2 linked regions of the Homo sapiens genome follow. The protein of the gene in region 1 purifies or fractionates together with the protein of each later gene. This does not show direct contact. Each region holds a gene or a part of one and is shown in the gene's direction. Other genes may lie near its edges.

Region 1 (3,650 bases):
CCTGCCTCGGCCTCCCAAAGTGCTGGGATTACAGGCGTGAGCCACTGTGCCCGGCCCACCTGGGAACTTTAAAAAAAATTCCAGGCTTGGGCTCCACCCCAAGAACCCTGCTTCTGACCAAACCCCAAAAGCACCTTGAGATTCCCACTCACCACAGTGGAAGCCCCTGCCCTGCCTGCCCTCTCCTTCCGCCTCCTCCTTATCTCCTGCTTGCCTCTCTCCGTACATCTCCATAAAGGCTACTTCCTCCCCACCAGCTTCTATGATTGCAGCACGGTGTGTAGGATTTGGATGTCCTTAGATCTGGGTTTAAATTATGTCTCTACCACATACAAGTTTCCCTCATCTTTCAAGACCGAAACAAAAATCTCAGGTGCTCAGGTGCTCTCTTTGACATCACCTCCAGTTCATCTTCTCCCATTCTCTCTCTTTTCTTTATTATTATTATTATTATTTTTTAAATTTTAGAGATGGGGTCTCACATGTTTCCCAGGCTGGCCTTGAACTCTTGGCTCAAGTGATCCTCCAGCCTCAGCCTCCTGAGTAGCTGGGACTACAGGCACATGCCACTGTGTCCCCATTCTCTCAAACACATTTCAGCCAGGCTTTTGCCTCCAACTCTCAGGAGGAGCTGATCTCATAAGGAACACGGATGATCCTCATTCTAAACCATGACCCCTAGCTCCATACTGATGTGTGCGCTGTGTCCCCGCCTCTCGTTGGGATACCCGCTGCCCAGCGTGAGTGCCTGGTTCTCCCCCAGCCTACTCTGTCTCTAAACAGCCCCATCCCGCCTCCCAGTTGCTCTGTCCAGACACCTTGGAGTCATCTGACTCCTCTTTCCTTCACACCCCACCTCATTCCATCAGCACAGTCGGTGGGCTGCAGCTTCAAAGGAGATCCAGCATCCATTACTACTCATGCCCAGATCCCCCCTCTCTGCAGTTGCCTCCTAGCAGGCTCCCGCCTCCTCCTTGCACCCTACATCTCATCTCTTCTCAACGGAGCAGCCAGAGGGACCCTTTTAAAACCCAAGTTGGATCCTGAGTCTCCTGGGTTCTAAACTTGGCAGTGGCCCCTGCCAGTGACAGAGGCAAAGGTGTAGCGCTGTCAGGTGCTGCGTTGCCTTCCGGACCGGCTGCTTTTCTTGGACCCTCCGTTCTACCCCCGCTTCCCACCCTCTGCCCTCCCCGCACGCCTACTCCGGCCTCGTTGGCCTCCTTGCTGTTGCTCAGACACGCGCCCCGCTGGGGCCTTTGCTCGGCTGCTCCCCCTGCCGGAGGTGTTAGCCATCTGCAAGGCTCATCTCCGGCCTCCAGGCGAGGCCGCCTCCAGCTCGCTGCTCTGGGAGTCTCCCTGACTCTCTAATTCCTATTGCACCCCGTGCCCCCACCCCACCAGCGCTCAGCTCCCGACCCTGCTCCGCTCTGCTTTTTGTTTCTTTCTGTTGGTTTCGGATCTCTTCTCATATTCTAGATTATTTACTTATTTACTAAGGTGTGTGTGTGTGTGTGTGTGTGTGTGTGTGTGTGTGTTTTATAGTAGAGACGGGGTTTTGCCATGTTGGCGAGGCTGGTCTTGAACTCCTGACAGGTGATCCACCCGCCTCGGCCTCCCAGCGTGCTGGGATTACAGGCGTGAGCCACCGCGCCGGCCTACTAAGGTATTTTTTTAAAAACCTTTTGTCTCCTGTTACTGAACAAAAAGCTCCACGCCCTGATCACAGAGCCCAGGTGCCTAGATTGGTGCCGGGCGCACAGCTCAGCCAGTGTATGGGTTTCTAGGCCCTCCAAAGCAGAGGTGGGCATCCTCCCAAGGTGAAGGGGTTCTCCAGGGGTGTCGTTGGCCGCTTACACCGCGCTCTTGATGGCGGAAGAGGGGAATTGCCAAAAAGCTATAGTGATCCTGCATGTCAGCAACCCCCTCTTCTGTAATTGGTGCAGGCTCAGGTCTGAGAACCACAGCTGCGGATCAAGACTGCAGGCTTGGAGTCAGGAACCCCGTGAACTTGAGCACAGAGCGCGGGTCGGCTGTGTTGTCATTGCCCTGACATCGCTTGGGACTCCCTCAGTGCGTTAGTTCTTAAATTAAACAAACAAACAAACAAAGGGCCAGGCGCGGTGGCTCATGTCTGTAATCTTAGCACCTTGGGAGTCTGAGGCGGGTGGATCACGAGGTCAGGAGATCGAGACCATCCTGGCTAACATGGTGAAACGCTGTCTCTACTAAAAATACAAAAAATTAGCCCGGCATGGTGGCGGGCGCCTGTAGTCCCAGCTACTCGGGAGGCTGAGGCAGGAGAATGGCGTGAACCCGGGAGGCGGAGCTTGCAGGGAGCCGAGATCGCGCCACTGCACTCCAGCCTGGGCGACAGTGCGAGACTCCGTCTCAAAAACAAAAACAAAAACAAAAACAAAGAACAAAAAAGACACTGGACAGAGGGAATGAATAGATGGACATGTTTGTGATGAAGCAAATACAGTCACATAATTGCACAATCTGTGTGGCAGGTATACAGACGTTCATTAAAAAACTTCCTTTAACTTTGTTTTGTTTTGTTTTTTGAGACAGTCTCGCTCTTGTCGCCCAGGCTGGAGTACAATGGCGTGATCTTGGCTCACTGCAACCTCTGCCTCCTGAGTTTAAGCGATTCTCTTGCCTCAGCCTCCCGAGTAGCTGAGATTACAGGCGTGCTCCACCATGCCCAGCTCATTTTTTTTGTATTTTTAATAGAGATGGAGTTTCACCATGTTGGCCAGGCTGGTCTCGCACTCTTGACCTCAGGTGATCCACCCACCTTGGCTTCCCAAAGTGCTAGGATTACAAGGCGTGAGCCACTGCGCCCGGCCTCAATTTTGAACGTTTGAAAATTTTTCGTGATAAAATGTTGAGAAGCATGCTGTAAACTTAAAAGATACTCATTGCAGAAGACCTGGAATATATAGAAAAATAGAAGGAAGCAAAAATTATCACAAAAACCACGCTTAGCCCCAGCACCCAGAAACCAGAGGGAATGTCCATTAGGATATTGTTATAGAGCTTTCTAGTCTTTTTGCTTGTGTCTGTTTTGCTATTTTTACATGATAGTGATTGTATGGATTACCACTGATTCTGTCAAGTCTTAGCTCAATTTCTGGTTCTAAAATGAACACATGCTTATTTAAACATTTTGGAAAACTAGAAAATACTTTTTTTTTTTTGAGGCAGTCTTGCTCTGTCGCCTAGATTGGAGTGCAATGGCATCATCTGGGCTCACTGCAAGCTCCACTTCTCAGGTTCAAGCGATTCTCCAGCCTCAGCCTCCTGAGTAGCTGGGACTACAGGCATGTACCACCATGCCTGGCTAATTTTTGTATTTTTTGTAGAGACAGGGTTTCACCATGTTGGCCAGGCTGGTCTCAAACTCCTGACTTCAAGTGATCCACCTTCCTTGGCCTCCCAAAGTGCTGGGATTACAGGTGTGAGCCCCCGCGCCCGGCCTAGAATATAATTAAAAAGAAAATTAATACCTTCAATTGAGAGGCAGTTTCATGAGGTTTGGCAACAGACAATATCTACATTTCCCAACTTAAAAACTGCAAGTCCATCAACATGAGTATTTTTTCCCTTTAAATACTTTTTAACATTTTTATTGTCAAAGTAATTCATAT
Region 2 (3,650 bases), on another chromosome or scaffold:
CAGTGTCTCCAGCACTGGGTTTTCTAGAATAATCCTCAAGCTTTATAGGTTAGGGGGTTGTGTGTTTACCACATCTTGCTGAGACTTGTCTTTTTCCTGGAGAGCTCTCAGTGCCCATGGATCCACCTACGGACGTAGGCAGATGACCTCCATCTTCACTTCCTCATGGATGCTAACACCAGATGTGCACTCCCCACAAAAACTGGTGTTTCCCAAATGGAACTCATTGTTTCAAACTAGCATAGTGAAAAGCACATGAAATCATCTGGGTTCAAGTTACATCTGAGTGACTCACTGACATCCATATAACCTTGAGCATATTACTTCACATCTCTTTCTGACCCTCTTTGCATCTGTAAAGTGACTAATCAACCATGGAGGGTCGTTTTGAGGATGAAAGGAGGTTTTATGTAAAGCACCCAGCACGTCGGTAGGTGTCTGATGAATGTTAGTTTCCTTCCTATCTTCTGTCTCCTAAGCTAGTCCTTCATTGTTGCCTCACACCTAGGTTTGCTGCTGCTGACTGTAGGTGCTCCTTTTTACTGTTGACTTTGTCTTTCAAATCTGGTTCAAATCAAACTTACACCTCCCTTGCCGAGAATCACGAACTGGCTCCCTGTTTCCTACCTGAAGGAAGTGAGACACTCCCACTAGACTTTCAAAGCCCTCCCTTTTCTTACTCATCCTCCATCCACTATATTCTTACTGTAACCTTATTTTAAAAGATGACACCATTCCACCATGCTCCCACTTCACTGTTCCATAAGCTAGCCACCTGTGTTATCAGCACCACACCAGCCTGGAAGAGCCAGGACCCCAGCGCTGGCTGTCATACGTCACTCCCACAGGCTCTCCTGGTCTAGTGTAGGCACTTAATAAATGCTTGTTGAGTGAAATTTCTCCTCAGATGTTTAGGAACTTGTGCTGAAGAATTTTAGGACAAAATTTCAGAAAATGACCAATTAATACCATGCATATTGTTTTTTCTCCCCTTGTATAAAAATTGTGCTCAGTTTCGAAGACTTGGAAAAGGAGATAAGGGAAAAATATCTACAATTCCACCATTTATAGATGCATTTTATTATCATTTTTAATGATAAAGGCATTTAACCCATTAGATGGTTACTTTGCATTGAGGAGCTAGTATGTGCTAGTGCGGCTATATGTGCACTTTCTTATACATTCTCATTTAATATGAACTTTCAAAAGTAATATGAAATTATATATATTTCAAATTTTTGTACAAAAAATACAGGAATTAGCCAGGCATGGTGGTGCAGGTCTGTAGTCCTAGCTACTTGGGAGGCTGAGGTAGGAGGAGTACTTGAGCCTGGTAGATCAAGGCTGCAGTGAGCTGTGATTGGACCACTGCACTCCAGCCTGGGTGACAGGGTGAGACCCTGTCTCGGGGTGGGGGTGGGATGAAGAAAAGAAAGAAACTGTGAGCTTAGTAGTAATGCCATAACTCTACTTTTGTTGCTTAGATTGGTTTATCTTGGAAGCTAAAGGGCATTGCTCATCCTGAAGATCAGCTGACCATTGACAATCAGCCATGTCATCCAGGCCTCTTGAAAGTCCACCTCCTTACAGGCCTGATGAATTGTAAGTAAATAATTCTTTAGTTATTCTCTTTTAAAAAGTCTATCACATGTAAACAATAAGTATGGTTGAAACTTTAAGTGTTTGCTTTTAAAAATAAAACGATATGTGTACTTGTAAATTTAAATTGTATCAAAGGGTCTGCACTGAAAACTGAATTTCTCTCAACTTTCAGAATGACAGTTTGTCTCTGCTAGGACAACTGCTGTCACCTATTCCTAATGTTTGTTTCAAGAGATTGCCAAGGTTTATATTTGTATGTTCCTTTTTGTTTTGTACAAATGATAATGAAGCTTCCATTTAAATGCCTCATTTAGGTGGCCATTGGGAACATATTGTCAGTTTTTAAAAATAACAGCTTTAGGCCGGGTGCGGTGGCTCACGCCTGTAATCCCAGCACCTTGGGAGGCCGAGGCTGGCGGATCACAAGGTCAAGAGATCGAGACCATCCTGGCCAACATGGTGAACTCCCGTCTCTACTAAAAATACAAAAATTAGCTGGCTGTGGTGGCGCGCACCTCTAATCCCAGCTACTTGCCTGTAATCCCAGCTACTTGGGAGGCTGAGGCAGGAGATTCACTTGAACCCAGGAGGTGGAGGTTGCAGTGAGCCGAGATCACGCCACTGCACTCCAGCCTAGAGACAGAGCGAGACTCCGTCTGAAAAAAAGAAAAAAGGCCAGGCCTGGTGGCTCATGCCTGTAATCCCAGCACTTTGGGAGGCCGAGGCGGGTGGATCACCTGAGGTCGGGAGTTTAAGACCATCCTGACCAACGTGGAGAAACCCCCATCTCTACTGAAAATACAAAATTAGCCGGGCATGGTGATGCATGCCTATAATTGCAGCTATTTGGGAGGCTGAGACAGGAGAATCGCTTGAACCCAGGAGGCGGAGGTTGAGGTGAGCTGAGATGGCGCCATTGCACTCTAGACTGGGTGACAAGAGCAAAACTCCGTCTCAAAAAATAAATAAATAAATAAAAATAACAGCTTTATTGAGATATAATTAACATACTTTACAATTTACCCATTTAGAATGGATAGTTTAATGGTTTTTAGTATATTCACAGAGTTGTAGAACCATCACCACAATTAATTTTAGAACATTTCATTACTCTCCAAAGAAACCTATCCATTGGCAGTCACCTCCCAGTTCCATCAGCCCTAAGCAACTATTGGTCTACTTTCTGTCTCTATAGATTTGTCTATTCTGCATATTTTGTATAAATGGAGAAATCACGTAATATGTGGCCTTTTGTAACTGGCTTCTTTCACTTAGCATAATACTTTCCATACTGTCAGTTTTAAGAGTGATTCCTGCCATGATCTAAAACAAGCAGTGTTGAGGGGTTTTGGGCTCCTTGGTCATGTGAAGACTTATCAGTGAATTTTTGAATTCCAAATTTGCTATCAAACATTGATAGGGATTTCCTCCTCTAAGTAGTTTGCAGCTTTAACCATGATAAGTGTAGTGGAGTGTGATATAGGCAAAAACAAACAGTTTCTCCTGCTGTTCTGTCACAACACATCTGTGACCTCTGATCACCAGAATTTGTGGGGATATTTCCCCACCAGCAACCAAGTAATCAGTTCTACAGTGGACAATAGCTGTGTGTCCTCTAATTATCAGTTCAATTCTGACACTGTCAGAGATAGCATCAGATCACAGGTTCAGGGCTCATTCCCACAAGACTGCCCCCACTTCACGTAGCAGCCACAAGCTCAGGTTGTGGCCTGTGTTTCTGACCCACCTACAGTAAATCAGGATTCCCACAGTTGTCTCCTTGGGTGCAATTAATTTGCTAAAGTGGCTTGCAGAACTCAGGGAAACAGTACTTACCATTACTGGTTTATTATAAAGGGTATTACAAAAGCCAGGTGTGGTGGTGCATGCCTGTTATCCCAGCTACTCAGAAGGCTGAGGCAGGAGGATTGCTTGAGCCCAGGAGTTTGAGGCCAGCCTGGGCAACATAGGGAAACCCTGTCTTTTAAGAATGAATGAATGAATGAACAAACAAATGATATTACAATGGATGCCAACAAACACCAGAT

The links. The genes of interacting proteins can lie anywhere in the genome.
Region 2: the proteins of PLAAT3 (region 1) and OCLN purify together in Homo sapiens (affinity purification with mass spectrometry; one large-scale study listed by BioGRID and IntAct). This does not show direct contact.

What each region holds. Positions count from the first base shown.
Region 1 is NC_000011.10:63,604,311-63,607,960, reverse strand, and holds part of PLAAT3 (phospholipase A and acyltransferase 3), read left to right. Parts: intron 1-3,650. UniProt on the Homo sapiens protein: Exhibits both phospholipase A1/2 and acyltransferase activities. Shows phospholipase A1 (PLA1) and A2 (PLA2) activity, catalyzing the calcium-independent release of fatty acids from the sn-1 or sn-2 position of glycerophospholipids.
Region 2 is NC_000005.10:69,502,693-69,506,342, forward strand, and holds part of OCLN (occludin), read left to right. Parts: intron 1-1,484; 5' UTR 1,485-1,552; coding exon 1,553-1,602; intron 1,603-3,650. UniProt on the Homo sapiens protein: May play a role in the formation and regulation of the tight junction (TJ) paracellular permeability barrier.